Linked DNA regions of Homo sapiens. The protein of the gene in region 2 interacts with the protein of the main gene of each other region in a pairwise test. Each region holds a gene or a part of one and is shown on either strand. Other genes may lie near its edges.

Region 1 (9,103 bases), on a different chromosome or scaffold from region 2:
ATGTCGGAGTCCATAGGCTGAGCAGAGATGGTTCTTAGTGAGGTTCTCGCTGCCAGTTGACGGTGAAATCATAGCTGCCATTTACATTTTGTGAGATTATGAAAAACATAAGACTAAAGAAACTAAATGTGTTATTCCTGTGGACACAAAAATGTGTGTTTTTCAGATGGGGAGGGGACCAAAAAGGAAAAACATTTCATCTTAAAACTTTCCTAAGACAAGGGAAAACAAAAAACCATGCTCTACAACTTCAAATTTTTCTTACAAAGAAAAATTTAATATTCGATGAGAGGTTGAACCAGGCTTAAAGCAGACATACTAGGAAATGGTGCAGCCTGTAAGAATGCCAGTTTGTAAGTACTGACTTTGGAAAAGATCATCGCCTCTATCAGACACTTAGGGTCCTGGTCTGGCAATTTTGGCCTGATGTGATGCCACAAGACCCAACAGAGAGAGACACAGAGTCCAGGATAATGTTGACAGTGGTGTAGCCCTTTAGGAGAAATGGCGCTCCCTGCGGCTGGTATTAGGTTACCATTGGCACCGAAGGAACCAGGAGGATAAGAATATCCATAATTTCAGAGCTGCCCTGGCACAGTACCTGCCCTGTCGGAGGCTCTCACTGGCAAATGACAGCTCTGTGCAAGGAGCACTCCCAAGTATAAAAATTATTACACAGTTTTATTCTGAAGAACATTTTGCATTTTAATAAAAAAGGATTTATGTCAGGAAAGAGTCATTTACAAACCTTGAAGTGTTTTTGCCTGGATCAGAGTAAGAATGTCTTAAGAAGAGGTTTGTAAGGTCTTCATAACAAAGTGGTGTTTGTTATTTACAAAAAAAAAAAAAAAAAAAAAAATTAACAGGTTGTCTGTATACTATTAAAAATTTTGGACCAAAATTGCTACCTATCATCTATCTTTTTGATTGCAGGGAATCCCTGCCAAGGTAACCTGACAGTCGGCCTAATTCTGTTGACAGAAAATGAAGCCTTGACGGTTCTAATTATCCAAAAGTGGGTTTTCATCAGGACGTACAGTCAGAGTGTGAGTGCATTCTAATGAAAACTTCAGCCCTCATTCAATTGCATATAAAAGCCCTCAAAGAGAACATACAGTACAGCAGTTTTGTAAAAGGCAACAATACGATTTGTACAGACCCCGACACTCCAATCCTATAGATCACCACGTTGCTCCTCTGTCCCCAGCACCCCTTATTTCTTAAGCAGCACCACCAGTCCCCAGAGGACAAGAGCAGCTATATCTCATCCACCTATGCATTTCTGCACCAGCGATGCAAAAAACACCCTGGGTGGGCCACAGAGAAAACCGTAACTATGGATACCCAAGGGGCAGAGCAGCCAGCTGGACCTGCTCTGTAATTCACTTACTTACTTACCAGAGGGTGGTTCAAGTCAAACAAACAAAACCAAAGACAGTTGCAACCCATGGTGGATCCAAAGGTACAGTATCAAAATCATGGAACTCTTGCCCAAAGAAAAGACTGCAAATAGTCATCTGGTATATCTTGTGGAAAGATGATAGGTTTATAGTGACTCAAAATATTTTAGAAAAATTTCTGTAGTGTCAAGTTCTTTCAAACTTAAAATTTTAACCCCAGAGGATTTTCGCTGAATAAATGAGAATTGGCTCTATTTCTTCTACTTCTGGATAGCCCGAGTAAAAATACTAATAATTTCTAGATTTTAGTGGGGAACTACAATTATTAGGACCCATGGATATTGCTGCAGTTCAAATACAATACAGTAATTACAAAATATAGACCATCTCTTTACAAATACAAATTATAGTATATTACAAGTCATGTACAGTAAATCTATAATTTTAAACAAACTAGTGTATCTAAGTTTACCTGGTTGCGAGTGCATTATTATTCCAGTTTACAGTTGCCCTTAGCGTGACAGTCAGAAACCGACCATCGGAGTGATATTCTCTTATGTAAACTGGCGTCACATCACAGAAAACCTTATTTATGAGGTCCCATTGCCCTCGCAATAATCACTGGTAGCTGGGTTCTGACTTACTTACACACCGTATTTCAGAACAGCTAAACAGGAACCAGGACGCAGTGTATTTGGGGGAAAGGGTTTAAAAATGGATATGTTGGGCCCAGTGACTGATATGCTAGACCGATGGCTGAGGTAACGACACAGGTGTGATGATCGTCATCACCTTTAACTTTCCCCTGCACCCCGCCGCCATGCCTTCAGTTGGGTGGGCCTGGTGCCCTGGTACATGGGAGAAGCAGACTCCACAGCAGTGCCCATCTGGACAATGGGGCAGGGCAGGTCTGGCCTCCTCACCCATCCTCTGTGAGAGGGCGGGGCCTGCTGTTTCCTGCAGCTGGGGCCGAGCGCATGGTACTCTGCCAGGCTCAACCGCTTGGGACCTGTTCCTACCAGGTTTATGGCTTTCTTGAGGCATGACATCTCTTATACAAAAGTCTAATTAATTGAATATTACTCCCAACTAGTGCCTAAACTTTCCTAACTATGAGGCACTTTTCCCCTGGCTCTCCTGCGCCCCACCTGAGGCCAGAGCCAGTCTGCCCCTCGCTGGGGGCTACAAGGTGGTGATGCATATCATTTCATCCGCCAGGTCCTCCTCATCCCTCCCAGGGTCTGGCTCTTCGTCGCTGTAGCCAGGACCAAAGTCCTGTAGCTCATAGTCCTGCCGGTGTGAGAGGGGGCCCACATCCCCGTTGGCTCGGGGACGCACGTTCCCATTAAGCAGGGTGCTGGCTGCACTCTCCATCTCGTCGATGGTGAGGTCACAGGCATCAGCGATTTCGTGTTTTGTTGCTGACACAAATTTTGGGTCCCTTGCATAGCGTCCCAAGCCTTCGGATATCAGGACCTGTACAGAAAAGAGGGATGGATGGCATGGGGGTGTTATAAGGCTTTGCAGGGCAGGGGGACGACAGAAAAATCAACTCCAGTGCTAACTTAACTGCACCGTGTGCTTTGGGGATGCAGCTCAATCATGTTTTCTAGACCTCATACATAATAACTAGTGTAAATGGCTTTGAAAATGTCCTGGAGCTAAAAAACTACACATGGCCCAACAAGAGTGAAACCCACTGGGGAAAGACATTTAGTATAAACTAGAAACATATGCCGGAACAGCACCCATAATGCCAGCACAGCTCATTTATGAGAATTGACGGTGGTGACCAGTTTTTGTTTTTTTTTTTTTTTTTTTTTTTTTTTTGAGACAAGAGTCTCGCTCTGTGGCCCAGGCTGGAGTGCAGTGGTGTGATCTCGGCTCACTGCAGCCTCCACCTCCCGGGTTCAAGCAGTTCTCCTGCTGCAGCCTCCTGAGTAGCTGGGATTACAGGCATACACCACCACGCCCGGCTAATTTTTGTATTTTTAGTAGAGACGGGGTTTCACCATGTTGGCAAGGCTGGTCTTTGAGCCGCTGACCTCAGGTGATCCACCCGCCTCGGCCTCCCAAAGTGCTGAGATTACAGACGTAAGCCACTGCAGCCAGTGGTGGTGACCAGTTTTTACTCATGCTTCAGGTACATTCCTGCTGCTCAGAAGTGTCTGATTGAGGCAGCCTAGCTCACAGCCTGGCCGCCCTCCCACCACTGCCCTTCCTGCTGTTACAGTTGCACCTCTGCTGCTCCTGGTGCTTCCTGCCCACCACGGCCAAGAACCGTACTCACTGCCTCCACCAAGCTGTCCGCACTCCTCTGCTTGTCGCTGTTTTTGTTCCGGAAGCTGCTGGGGACAGTCAGGCTGGCTGGTGTGAAAGTCCGGTAGGAGATGTCGGGCTCGTCTGTGTACCAGGAGCTGCGGTGCAGGGACGGCAGGCTGCCGTTCACCTGGTCCAGGGCCTCTGACTGCTCCACTTGGATCAGGGGGGTGTAGCACGGTGTCCAGTCCCGGTAGGGAGGGGTTGCTGGAGGGGTGGCCCACGACCGGGTCGAGTGACTCGGTGAGTACTTCTGGGCTTTACTTGAATCTAGGCCGGCAACTGCCATGATCTGAGGAAAGAGGGGACTGTTGGGAGACCAGAGGTTCTCAGAGGTCCGGGCCTCAAACCTTCTGCGCACAGACCAAGCACCGGCGCTGCGCTCGCCAGGGGCAGTCCAGGCAAGGACTTGGAAAGGACATGGGCACACTGAAGTACGCTGAATGAATGGGCGGTGATGACTTTGTTTTCTAGCAGACTGTGCTTTCTTTTACCCCGAATCCATAATGCATTTCCTTTGGCTTTTCCCAAGGAGGTATCAGTTGCTAATTCATGAAATTGCTTCAGAATGAAGAATCAGGGAAGCCCAACAAGCTGTGGGTGTGAACACACCACCCAGTTCATGCTGGGTTTAAATACCGAAGTACATTCAGGGGAAACTACCACTTCCCAGCACTTATAGGAAAACAGCTGGTTCTCTTTGCTCTGGAGTAATGCATCCTAGAGCCGGCATTTGGCATGTGCTAAAGCACTGGGTACAAGCCCCGGTCTTACAATCCCACCACGGCAGATGCACCTTGGGGTTCACACTCTGCAGAGAGGGACGGGGAACGCTGTCTGTAAACAGCACAGGTCCATGCCCACCACCCTGTCGTGCACGAATGAATGGCATCTCTGATGTGATATTTTCAGAAAGAAAAAGCGCCATATTGTTATCCTTGAGGGAAAGCCCTAGTGAGTGGGCTCCGGCCCCACCCTCTTGCCTGTGCAGCCGCCCTCAACGTGGGCAAACTGTTCTCCCCAGACTGCTCCCTTTGTAGGCAGGGGAGGTTAACCCTGCATAGTACCCACAGGGCCCTGCCCATGGAGGGACCCATAAACTTAATGAAGGAACCACTTCTTAGAGAAAATGAAGGGCTGCACCGCTTGTTCAGAATCAGCCAAGTGGCCCCCACTCCCTGAGCTCAGATCACATCAGGCTCTGTATTCAATGCCAGGAAGAGGTGGTGGGGATCGCAGGGAGGCACCTGGGCAGTGAGGCCAGCTTTGGCAGCTGGCTCCCTGGATTCAAATGCCAGCAGTCACTTGTGTGAGCTTGGGCAGCATGGGACTCATGGCCATAGCTATTTGACAGGATTGTTACAAAGATTAACTAGACTGTAGGTGAAGATTCTCTCCTTCCCTCCTGGTGCTTAAGGCCAAGGAGAAGGGAGTGACCTGATGGGGGTCCTATGTGGGGTGCCCCTAGGTGTGGGGGCAAGGCCAGGTGGGCCGCTCACCTGTTGCTGCATTAGATGCAGAGGCAGGGCCGTGCGATGGGGGAAGATGGGAGACGACGGGACCTCTTCCTGGCTGCTCTGCCGGCGCAGGCACTCAAAGTTGAAGGAGGATCTCCGGTGGGCTGGGAAAGCAAAGGGCATCACACAGCTGTGAAGCAAGTTCTCTGCCGGGACACCGTCTTTCAGAGTCAGGGTGGCCCCGGATGCTCAGCAACGAGCCCAGGAAGAAGCATGCGGTTTGTCCAAGAGAAAGATTAGGTAGTGAGGTCTCCAAACTTTAGTAGGAGAGGATGAAGGCAGAAGCCCCAGTGAGGGATGTTTTTTAAAGTACAAACTTACTACTTTTTTTTTTTTTTTGAGATGGAGTCTGGCTCTGTCGCCCAGGCTGGAGTGCAGTGGCGCAATCTCAGCTCACTGCAAGCTCCACCTCCCGGGTTCACGCCATTCTCCTGCCTCAGCCTCCCGAGTAGCTGGGACTACAGGCGCCCGCCACCACGCCCGGCTACTATTTTGTATTTTCAGTAGAGACAGGGTTTCACCGTGTTAGCCAGGATGGTCTCGATCTCCTGACCTCGTGATCCACCCGCCTCAGCCTCCCAAAGAGAACTTACTACTTTTAAACGTTCGCCTGTTCTCAGGAGGAGGAGTGAAGGCAGCCCATAGGGCAACTGATCCGAGTCAGAAGCCCTGGCGCTGCATACTGTGGGGAGCGCACAGCACTTCAGTGCAAGAACACAAGTCCTGCCAGAACCCCACGACACTTCCCACTGTCACCTTCCAGATACCCTAAGTGTCCCCAGCAGCTGACATATCTTGCTGGGGCTCCTGTGTTTACACCTGTTTTAAAGGGAGGGACTTTACCTGCACTGATCAGCTTGACCAGGTAATAAGCAAATTATTTTTGTTGGGAAAGATTCAGCTTCTCTAGCACTGAATACAAACAAAGGACACCTCTAATTTTAAGAAAATGCTTGTCCTGCTAACAGCTCTTCCAACAGAGGCTCACACAGAGGTTAACAAGACAATCCACAGCTCCCAGCTTCACAGGGCACCAGGCCCGGGAGATCAGTCTGAATTCTGGGGCCCTAAGACACAGCCAGCAGCCTCCTCCCAGAAACCTCCTACCCCTTGCAGGGGCCTCTGTCGAGAGCACACCTATCGTTTACAAGGCATTTCTATGGCTCCTATCTTGACCGCTGCTTTTCTCGGATCACAGGGCCTCCTTTCTCAGCCCTGGCAAAACTCCACATGCCCCTCATTCCGCTATTGGAAAGCCCAGGGCCTAGCCAGGGGAGGACTCCCAGGCACACTGGGGCTGCACACAAGAGACCGGGCTGAGTCCTTGGCTAGGCACTGCCCAGCAGAGAGGAACGAGACAGCCAGTCCTGGTCTCTCGTGCCCAGTGCGCACTGTGGGGCCTCCTGGTTCAGTTGCCTACATGGGACACACACGGCTGCCTCATCAGAAAGCCTTCCCTCCACGCACCACCCAGGGGCCAACTGTGCTGTGGAGCATAGGTTTCCAGATCGAATGGCCGGGCTGGGGGCTGGGAAAGGAGAGCAGCGGTCCCTCTCCTGTATGTGGTGCTTTTCCATTTCTAAAATGCTCCAGGGATCCCCACCATCTCATGTGCTCTGCACAACACTCTCTGGAGGAGGAGGGAATCCCCCTGCAGCTGAGAACACAGGTGGAGGAGGGAAATGTTCTTCCTGTCCAAGGTCTGAGCTGCGGGGCAGCAAAGCAAAACCACCTTATGAATCAAGAGCACAGCCACTCCTGCCCACTCAGCTCCTCTCTGGCACTGTGGCTGGTGGGATTCATGTGCTTGCTTGCTTGGCCAAGTAGGCAGTAGACAAAGGCCGAGGCCCGAGGAAGGCAGTGGAACTCACAAGGGCGAGGGCCATCACCCGGCCTCACCTGCATCTGCTTCATCTAGTATTTATGGGAAAGGAGTGACTTCATTTAGCTGCATGTGTTCAGGGCTGAGGAATTAAATATTAACCATGGAAATGGGTCTGGTCACACTCCCCAGTGGGGCTGTGACAGTTGGAGTGAGGCAGAGGGCCCTGGGCACCTCCCAGTGGTGCTCTTTATAGTATATGCAGTTGGCAGACTCAGAAGCCGATGTGTCACGGCTATTTTTGGTTACTGATTAGAGTCCTGTTCAAAAATATGCTTCATTCCTCAGAAATTCCAGAAATGGATAGTCCTTAACCATCAGCAAAATGCCCACATGTCCAAAATGAAACTGTTCAGCCAAGGGCTGGAAGGGGCCAGGGCTGCACCTCTTCCCCCAGCTGGAGTTCCTTGCTCAGGATGACCCAGATCCGCCAGCTCCTGCCACCCACCGCTGCAGAGGGAAAGCAGGTGGAAGCAGCCAGCCCCAGCCCCAGCCCCTCTAGGTGGGATGGGTTTCCTGGCCCCAGAGTGAAGGGGACCAACAAGTCCAGAACCTGCCCCGTGAGCAGAGGGCACTGACAGACTTGACAGGAAGATGAGGGAGAAGCAGAGAAAGTGAGGGAGGAGGAGGGAAGGCAAGGGAGAGGAAGGGGGAGGAGGGAAGATGAGGGAGGAGGGAGGAGGGAGGAGGAGGGAGGAGAGGGGGAGGGAAAAGAAGGAGGAGGAGGGTAGATGAGGGAGGAGGAAGATAAAGGAAGATGCTAGAAGACGAAGGAGGAGGAAGATGAGGGAAGATGAGAGAAAATGAGGGAGGAGGAGGAGGGAACATGAGGGAGGAGGAGGAGGGAACATGAGGGAGGAGGAGGGAAGATGAGGGAGGAACGGAGGAGGAGGGAAGATGAGGGAGGGAGGAGGAGGGAAGATGAGGGAGGAGGAGGAGGGAAGATGAGGGAGCAGGAGAAGATGAGGGAGGAGGAGAAGATGCGGGAGGAGGAGGAGGAGGGAAGATGAGGGAGGAGGAGGAAAGATGGAGGAGGAGGGAAGATGGAGGAGGAGGAGGGAAGATAGAGGAGGAGGAGGGAAGATGAGGGAGGAAGAGGGAAGATGAGGGAGGAGGAGGGAAGATGAGGGAGGAGGAGGGAAGATGGAGGAGGAGGAGGGAAGATGAGGGAGGGAGGAGGAGCAGAGATGAGGGAGGAGGATAAGGCTTGGAGGGGCCTGAGGACAGATGGACACCAGAATGCCCAGGTGGCCCTCAGAGGCATGGGGTTTTGCAAGACAGGCCTGCGGCACAGCCAGCTCTGCACTTGAGCCCACTCTTCCCCTTTGGGGGCTCAGTCACCCCATCACAGAGTGCAGCAGGGCTGACAACAGCAAAAGCATGTGTGTGGTTTGCCTCCCTCTCAGGATGGTCCCAGGTTCAAAGACAATGCTATGTATGCAAAACACCCCTTACCAGATGTGTGCGTGCAATCTTAGGGCCCCACAGCCTCTCTCTTCTCAAAGAGAGTCAAGCATAGCACTGAAGAGGCTAGAGCTCTATCACGTGAGATATGGATGAGAAAGGAAGGAAAGCAGACACACTCTCTGGCTGGGGGCTGGTCTTGAGGACTAAGGATCCTGACCTGGCAGCACACATCCATCACCGGCCCCCAGAGCGGGGGTTGGGGGAGAGGTACACTGTTCCCCGGGAGGTTCCACCCAAAACAAAAAATCTGGCCTCACATGCTGGGGTGGGAGGTAGTAGGCGTCTCCTTGGAGATCTCCGTGAATCATAGCAAACGGGCGAGTCATCGTCCTCCAAGAATCCTTGGGGATGATGGTAGCCTCGGGGCCTCTCAGAGTCGATGTTTCTGCCTGGGTATCTGCTGTAGTAGCCATAGTTTTGCCTGGAGGTCAGAGAGGAGGGCAGTAAGGTTCTAGGTAACAAGCTCTGTCACTCAACCCTGCCAGACTGACATCCATACTCCTCTCCCCGCCTCCTCC
Region 2 (9,110 bases):
AATCCTAGCACTTTGGGAGGACAAGGTGGGCAGACTGCTTGAGCTCAGTAGTTGGAGACCAGCCTGGACAACATAGTGAAACCCCGTTTCTACTAAAATACAAAAAAATTAGCTGGGCGTGGTGGCATCTGCCTGTAGTCACAGCTACTTGGGAGGCTGAGGCATGAGAATTGTTTGAACCCAGGAGGTGGAGGTTGCAGTGAGCAGAGATCGTGCCACTCCACTCTAGCCTGGGCAACAGAGCAAGACCTTGTCTCAAAAAAAAAAAAAAAAAAAAAAAAAAAAAGGAGTGGGCAGCCCTAGGACCTTAGGTTGCTTGAGGACTGGATTGGGGATGCCATGTCGGAGCACAGAGATCTGGGAAGCTGAGTGCCTGGGAGCAGAGTGGACAGAGGCCTGGGGGCGGAAGCAGGGCTGCAAGGGCACTCTCAGCATCCGTGAGTGTGCAAGGGGGGGCTGGGGACTACAGGGGAAGGCGGAGCTGGTGGGGGAGGCTCTGCCTGTCTGCTCATGGTTCATCCCATCTGGGTAGGTGAGGGTGTGGACGCAGCACCTAGGGCAGAAGAACTTCATTACTCAGATCAGGAGGAGGAGGAGGGTGGAAAGTGTGAGCTGACAGGGCGCTGAGGGGGTTGGAGGGAGCAAGGCTTAGGGGCGGGGCCTGCCCTACCTGGACCTCTTTGGCATGAAAGGCCACGATGAGGCAGAGGAGTAAGAAGGTGGAAATGCTGATCGTGCATTTAACCAGGAACAGGTAGAGCGCCCACTGTCAGGGGGGACGGAAAAAGCGGTGTGAGATCCCAGGTCTCCCTCCGCCTGGCCCTCCACCTTTCCTTCAAAACCACCATTTTTTTTTTTTGATTCCCAATTTTCCTAGCCTCCTTCCCCTGCAAATCAGTCCCTCTTGATGTGTCGGTTCTGGAGAAGTCTCAAAACCATCATCTGGGCCCAGTGCGGTGGCTCACACCTGTAATCCCAACACTCTGGGAGGCTGAGGCAGGTGGATCACCGAAGGTCGGGAGTTTGAGACCCCCTGGCCAACATGGTGAAACCCAGTCTCTACTAAAAAAACAAAAAATTAGCTGGGTGTGTAATCCCAGCTACTTGGGAGGCTGAGGAACCAGAATCTTGAACCCAGGAGGTGGAAGTTGCAGTGAGCTGAGAGATCGCGCCACTGCACTCCAGCCTGGGCAACAGAGCGAGTCTCCGTCTCGAAACAAGCAAGCAAGCAAACAAACAAACAAAAAAACACCATCATCTGGTCCCCAGGAATGCTCTCTTTCTCCCCAACAGGACAACCCTGTCCAGATGCTGGTGTCTACCCTCTTCCTCAGCTCTTCTCCCAAGACCCATACCCATGAAGGGGGACCTTGAAACTCACATTCCTTCTTATTCCTGTCCCATTTCACATCAAAAATAGTTCTTCAGGTGTGTGTGTGTGTGTGTGTGTGTGTGGGTGTGTGTGTGTGGTGTCTAGAAAAAGACATCTAGCCTCTAGAGAGTGCCCCCTCCCCTTCCCTTCCTACCCACCTGGTGTTGTCCTAGAAACCAACTTCAATCAACCCCAACCCCAGATCTGGAAGAATGTAGAAACTACCATTCAATCCTCAAAGACTGAGTCACACCCTTCTCTGCTCTCATCCGGAGGGCTGAGTCCCTGAGACCCAGCCTCAGCTCTGAGACAGCCCCCTCGGTTCTGCCCCCCTGCAGCTCCCCACTGCCACCCCTCTCTTCTGGCTCTAAGCCCAGGGCAGATCTGGCCGGAAGCACAGGGCCTCCAGAAACCACGGAGAAATTGTTCCTTTTTTTTTTTTTCCTCTCTTTGTGTGGCACAACCTTGGAGGAATCTAGAATTCTGGAGAGAGGGATTTAGAGGGGACTGGGACTGTTGGATTTCCTAAGAGGGGTTGGTCCCTGCCTGGCGGGTATTTGCAGGGGGAGGGGACCACCTGGGCGTCCTTACAAAGCATTGCACCTGTTTCTCCTAAGAGGGCTGCCAGCTCCCCTGGCTGGGCCAGCATCCCGCCTCTGAGCAGGGGAAGAGGGCCAGTTTCCTGCCCCAGGGGCCTGCTCCCCAACCCCCTATCAGAACAATAGTGCTGTTGTCACCAGCCCTCCCCCACCTTCTATGGCTCCCTGGTTCCCTGCCTCTTTCTTCAGTCTGTCTTAACTGCCCACACCACTAGACAACAAGCTCCCTCCTCACACTGCAATTTGCTTCTCTGGTGGTCCTCTCTACTTTTCCATTTCCTCTTCCCCCAAATCCCGGACCTGTCTGCACTTGGGCCTGTACTCTGTTCTCTGAATTTCCCTGTCTCTAGGGATGGTTGTTGCTGTCTTTCTATGTGTTTTGAGGGTCTTTGTTTCTATTGTCTCTTTTTTTTTTTGAGACGGAGTCTTGCTCTGTCACCCAGGCTGGAGTGCAGTGGCACGATCTTGGCTCATTGCAAGCTCCGCCTCCTGGGTTCACACCATTCTCCTGCCTCAGCCTCCTGAGTAGCTGGGACTACAGGCACACGCCGCCATGCCTGGCTAATTTTTTGTGTTTTTAGTAGAGATGGGGTTTCACTGTGTTAGCCAGGATGGTCTCGATGTCCTGACCTTGTGATCCGCCCACCTCGGCCTCCCAAAGTGCTGGGATTACAGGCGTGAGCCACCGCGCCCGGCCCTCTATTGTCTTTTCTAACGCTGTGTGTGTATCTCTCACTGGTGGATTTCTCAGTAGCTTGATAGCCCTATTTGTCTTTCTCTTTAGCTGTACTTCTCTATCTTTCTGCATTTTTGTCTCCATCTCTCTTTTTCTCTCCATGTATCTCTGTGTCTCTGTCTCTCTCTGTACCTCTCCCCATCCCTCCTCCTCCACCCCACCTGGTGCTTTTGGATATCTCTATCCAGTTCCCTTGGACTCCCTAGGGTTTTGCACCTGCCTCTCTGCCAGCCCCTCCCCCTGGGGAGCAGGTGTCTGGGTCCTTTGCAGAAATGAGCTCATTAGATTGAGATGGAGGTGGTGAGGGGCGGTGGATGTTATTAAGAGAGTCCTCAAAAGGGGACTGAGGAGCTGTGGCTCAGGCCTGTAATCCCAGCACTTTGAGGCAGGAGGATTGCCTGAGTCCAGGAGTTCAAGACCAGCCTAGGCAACAAAGCAAGGTCCCATCTCTACATAAAATAAAAAGGGTGGAGGGTGACCCTTAGGGTCATGTATTTTAACCCTCACCCCAATTTACAGATGGGGAAACTGAGGTTCAGAGGGTTGTAACAGCTTCCCCAAGGTCCCACTGATAGAGGCAGTGGCCTGGCCATGGTGGAGGGAAGGAAGAAATGAGGGGTGAGAAAGCAGAGGGGTGAAGTGGGGTAGGATGGACCCCGTCTCTTCCCATCTGCCAGGGTCACTGTGTTCCCACCTCGGCTTCTGGGTGCGGTGCTTCGGCGTGGGAGCGGCGGGCAGGCCCCGGCCATGCTTCCTGTTGGCATGGACTTCGGCGGCCCCACCCCCTCAGTGCCCGCCGCCTGCCAGAGGAAGCTGCATGCCTGACCCTCCATGTGGCTCCTGGTCACTTCAGAGCTGCCCACCACCCCCTCCAGATCCAAGTCGGAACATCAGACCCTCAGGAATCTACCCAATCTTCATATCAGTGTCCGCATCTGGCCCTACCAGCCCAGTTCCACAACCCTTCTGCCAGAGAGGTCTCCAGCCCCTCCTTTCCTGTTGAGCAAGTCTGTTCTCCCCTCAAGCCACTTATTCCAACCCTTGTCCTTGATCTGCCCCATCACTGGCCTGACCAGGGCTGGAATGTGACGGGAGCCTGCTGAGACCTGCCCTGACCCCACTTTCCCCTTTCTTCCCTACTCACCACTCATCTTCGGAGTCAGCCCCTCTTCCCCAAAAGCAATCAAAACCCCCTTCTCCTTAAGACTCAGGAATCCAGGACCCAGCCCCCTCCTCTCCTGGTACCTAGGAGTCCAGGCCACTGTAAGCCTACCTCTCCACTATTTCCCTGACTAATCAGCATGCAGATTTGGGGAGAAATTGAGCTTGTTAACAGTGGAGACTGGGTTGGGGTTGGTGGGGGGAGGCAGGTCGGGGGAGAGGTTTGTTTCCCATTTCCCATCCCCACCCCCAAGGCAGTTTTTTCTGTCCTTTGCATCTAAGGCACTGGGTAAACATTAGAGGTTAGACAAGGACCAAAGAGCTGCCGCCTACTGGAAGAACTTTGTCTTTCCTCCACTCTCCCTTCACCAAACCTGGGGCTACCTCTCCCCTTATTGGCTCTTGGGGGGCTTGAGTGTCTGATCAGCCACCCTCTGGCCTCCAGGGGTCCTGGACCTCTGGCCGTCTAATGGCAACATCTTCAAAGACTGAAACACTGAAACAAATATTCCCTTCCTTTTGCAGAGAAGGACCCCAGCAACTGTCTCCTGGGAGCACCCAGGAGTCCCAGCCAAAGCCCCTCCTCCCTCAGACCCAAGAGTCTAGGCCCCCAACCTCTCCTCCCTCAGATCCAGGAGTCCTGACCCCCAGCCCCTCCTCCCTCAGACCCAGGAGTCCAGACCCCAGCCCCTCCTCCCTCAGACCCAGGAGTCCTGACCCCCAGCCCCTCCTCCCTCAGACCCAGGAGTCCAGGCCCTCAGTCCCTCCTCCCTCAGACCCAGGAGTCCAAGTCCCCAGTCCCTCCTCCCTCAGACCCAGGAGTCCTGACCCTCAGCCCCTCCTCCCTCAGACCCAGGAGTCCTGACCCCCAGCCCCCCCTCCCTCAGACCCAAGAGTCCTGACCCCCAGCCCCTCCTCCCTCAGACCTAGGAGTCCCAGCTCCCAGCCACCATGCCCCACTCACCGAGCACCCCCCGAACCACAGCATCTCTGCATGCAGCACCATGAGTCCAATGCCAGTTCCTGCCAGCACCAGTGCCCAGCCGGCCAGAGACTTCTCCTGCTCCAGCAAGCGCTTTCGGCGTCTCAAGGCCCCCAGGCCAAGCACCAGATCCCCGCCCATGGCCCCCGGGGTCTTGGGGCTCAGCCAGCTTCCTGCCCAGGGTCCCCCACCTCGCAGCACGCACAGGGCAGCCACTGTGGCTTGCAGGTCGTCAGCCTGCTCTGCTGGCTCTGGGACTTTTGCTCTGAGGCACAGCAGAGCCCTGTGCCCTCTGGGGAGTGGTGACGGCCAGGCAGGGCGGGGAGGGGCAGGGGAGGCCCCAGGGTAGGGGGAGGCTCCCCAGCTCCCCCTTTTGAGAATAAGGAGGGGCTAGGGTGTGTCTTGGGGCAGAGCAAGAAAGAGACGTCCATCCACGTGGATAAAGACACACACAGACACACGATGGGCTTTGTCACACACAATGGTCTGTACTTTGTGACACACACCTCTACTCACCACACCCAGACACCGAAGGACACTCCACAGCCCAAGACGGAGACTAACACACCAGGGCACACAACACAACCTACACAGAGTGACTCACAACTCCCAGCAAGCTCTGAAACCCACAGCCACACCCAGACACCACACACATGGTGTGACACACACCAGCACTTAGCAAGCAGGCAGTATCCCGTGGCACACACAGCCACCCAAACACCGTCCACACACAGGCACAAATATTACACTCAAAGTTGTCACAACTTTCTCTGACACAAAGAGCCACACCCAAACACCACAAATAGGACGATGCACAACTGTGGCCACACAAACACAACATACACCAGGTGTTACACAAACACACAATATATATTAAAGTAGTGACGCCCTGATGCCACACACCACACACCGACACAAACACTGTGCAGTCCCAGTTTCCTAAACACTACACACCCTTGGAACGAAACCCAATACGTGTAGACACACAACATTTAGGGACATACCTATAGTAGCCCCCAATCACCCAGAGCTAGAGAATTGCACATACATTGTGGCGCCTGTTGACTCGAACACAAGTGCTCGCAGTGATGATTCAAAACACGCACTGATTCAGCATGCTCTGATGTGTGGTGCGATTCAAATGTATGGTCAGAGGACAAGCTGAGTGGATGCATGCAGAGACCTACAAGGTACAGCGACACACGGAGAAACCCAAGAAGCACATGCCTGAAGCAAGATGATTCTGGTATATTCTGGCCACACAGGACAACATCCAGGATGATGCCCTGGGGGAAGGGGATGGGGTTGGACCTTCATAGACCCCAGTGCCCAAATGCAACATACGGCTGGGTGCAGTGGCTCATGCCTGTAATCCCAGCAGTTTGGGAGGTTGAGGTGGGAGGATTGCTGGAGCCCAGGGGTTTGAGACCAGCCTGGGCAACATAGCAAGATCCTATCTCTAAAACAAGCAAAAACAAAAAAACAAACGCAACATACACCATCACCTCTGAGCCATGAGCCACACCCAAACATGACATACAATACCTCCACACAACCCAACACGTTATATTCCAACATGCGTGGCCACACAACAACATACGCGGAGTAATACACCAGCACACAGTAACGCAAAACACATAAACACAATGTTTTCCAACACACCCAACCTTCCACAAACGACCACATGTCCCATAAAACACCAGATGTCACCACTCACTGATACTACTGACACTGAGGTCTACCGCCACCCACACAACACCAGCATCGGGGGAGGGGGGTGTATCCTCTGACACAACATAACACACAGCTACACAAACACAAGACACTTGGGGTGGTTGGCACTCAGGGTGGGTGCTGGGGGCTGAGAAGGAAGAGGCCCCCAACAGGGACATGGACCCTGACGTGAGATACAGCAAATGCCAGTGTGGAATGTGCACGGTGACTCTCAGAGCAACACACAACATAGGACATCTCCATGTGTCGCAGCACGAGCCACTCATGGATCTGTACACCATACGCTCCGACACAGATCAAACCCTCCTGTGGAGACACACAGGCATGCACTGACCTGGTGACGCACATCACCTCCCAGCATCATGCACTGAACTGGTGACACTGCCCTTGGCCTCATGCACACCCCTCTGCAAGGAACCTGCGGACACAACCCTCCCCCTCCTTGTGTCCTAGGTCGTGTGGGACCCTGGACCCACCAGCCCCAGGGAAGCGAGACACGCACAGACATGTCTGACTGCACACCAAGGCAGCCCACACAAACACACCCAGAGACACCAAACCATACACATGGACACGCCCAGTGGCAAAAACACAACCCTTGCGGGGGCTCCGCCCCTCGGCACACACAATTACCCACTCGGCGAGACTTGGCGGGAGAGGGCTGGAGACACACCCGGGCGCGCCCAGACACCACACATGCGTCCACTTGGGGAAAGTGCAGCCGCCGGGCACTCCTGAGCCTGCAGCCTGGGCACCCCTGCCCACTGGCCGCCCGGCTCGCTGCGTCTCTCTCCTCCCTCTCCGGCTCTTTCTCTGGTTCTTTGGGACTTGCTTCCTGTCTCAGTCTCTCCTGATCTGGAAACCTCCGCGTTTGTCTTTTTTTTTTTTTTTTTTTTTTTTGAGATAGAGTCTTGCTCTGTCTCCCATGGCTGGAGTGCAGTGGCACGATCTCGGCTCACTGCAACCTCCACCTCCCAGGTTCAAGCAATTCTCCTACCTCAACCTCCCGAGTAGCTGATATTACAGGTGTGCACCACCACACCCAGCTAATTTTCGTATTTTTAGTAGAGACGAGGTTTCACCATGTTGGCCAGGCTGGTCGTGAACTTCTGACCTCAGGTGATCCACCCGCCTCGGCCTCCCAAAGTTCTGGGATTACAGGCGTAAGCCACCGTGCCTGGCCAGGTTTGTCTTTATCTCTGTCTCTGTTCTTCTCTCCTGGTACCTTTGTCTCTCTCTGTCTCTCTTCACTCTGTCTCTCTGTCTCTGCCTCTCTTAGCCTCTCTGTGTCTCTCTCATCGCTCTGTCCCTTTCTCCATCTTCGTGTCCCTCTCTGCTCCTCTGTTTCCTTCTTTCCCCGTCACTGTCTCTCTGTCATGTCTCTCTCTGTGTTCATCATTGCCTGTGTCTCTGTCATCGTGTCTCACTCTGTCTCCATCTCTCCGTCTCTAGGGCCCTCTGTTTTTGTCTGTCTCTTGCTGAATCGGTGTTTCTCTCCGTCTCTGTTTCACTCTCTCCCTGCCTCCTGGTCTCCTCTTGGGTCTCTCTCTCTCTCTCCGGGCCTCTCTATGCTTGTCTCTGCCTCAGTTTCTCTCTGCTGTTCACTGGCACATCTACGGACAGCCTGGTTCCTTCCGGTTCTACCCCAGTCCCACTCAGGGGTTGAGGGCCAGTGATCCAGAGACTGTGGCCACCCAAGGGTCAGAAGCCACTAAATAGCGCTCCAGCTGCGGCCATGCCATGGCATCTGTGCCCCAGTTCAGGCACTTGTGAAAAACGGAGACAGAGACTGACACAGAGGGAGAGAGAGATAATCAGAGAGACCTCGAGGCATTCAGCCAGGGATGGTGGGGGCATGTATTAAAAAAAATCAAAGAGACCCACAGGTGCAGAGAAACCGGAAAACACAATCAAGACACGGAAGTTAGAGCACAGAGAAATTTTGTCTCCAAATAGGCCATGACTGAAAGAGAAAAACAGCAAAGGATGGGCATGGACATGCCTGGGTGGCAGTGATGGGGTTACAGTGGGAAGGGCACCTGCCTTCAAACTGCAGTCCTGGGATGCAGGGGTCAGTCCTAGGAAACTGCTTCACTCCTCAGCCAGCTGCCTCCAGCCCAGGGAGGGGCCAAGGGGGGAGGGCGAGGTGACTCAGGGCCTCAGGGCTTCTTGTGACTCACCCTTGGTCTCAATCCTAGAATGGGGAGTGGAGGGAGAGAGGGGTTTGTGTAAAAGAGAGGGAGAGGGAATAGTAGAGGACCTCAAAATGCCTAAGAGGAAGGGTCCAGGAGGAAGAAGCTGGGGGTCTGGACTCCTGGTTCTGAGGGAGGAGGGGGTCTGAGGGAGGAGGGGCTGGGGTCTGGACTCCTGGGTCTGAGGAAGGAGGGGATGGGGTCTGGACTGCTGGTCTGAGAGAGGAGGGGCAGGGGGTCTGGACTCCTGGTTCTGAGGGAGGAGGGGGGCTGGGGTCTAGACTGCTGGTCTGAGAGAGGAGGGGCTGGATCTGGACTCCTAGGTCTGAGGGAG

Evidence for each region.
Region 1: the proteins of KCNN4 (region 2) and CACNA1D come close enough for resonance energy transfer, tested with the Homo sapiens proteins (one study listed by BioGRID).

Annotation. Positions count from the first base shown.
Region 1 is NC_000003.12:53,804,886-53,813,988, reverse strand, and holds the end of CACNA1D (voltage-dependent L-type calcium channel subunit alpha-1D), read right to left. Parts: intron 9,007-9,103; coding exon 8,843-9,006; intron 5,341-8,842; coding exon 5,219-5,340; intron 4,012-5,218; coding exon 3,691-4,011; intron 2,877-3,690; coding exon 2,583-2,876; 3' UTR 256-2,582; downstream 1-255. UniProt on the Homo sapiens protein: Voltage-sensitive calcium channels (VSCC) mediate the entry of calcium ions into excitable cells and are also involved in a variety of calcium-dependent processes, including muscle contraction, hormone or neurotransmitter release, gene expression, cell motility, cell division and cell death.
Region 2 is NC_000019.10:43,775,871-43,784,980, forward strand, and holds the start of KCNN4 (intermediate conductance calcium-activated potassium channel protein 4), read right to left. Parts: upstream 5,104-9,110; 5' UTR 4,992-5,103; coding exon 4,833-4,991; intron 767-4,832; coding exon 671-766; intron 1-670. UniProt on the Homo sapiens protein: Intermediate conductance calcium-activated potassium channel that mediates the voltage-independent transmembrane transfer of potassium across the cell membrane through a constitutive interaction with calmodulin which binds the intracellular calcium allowing its opening.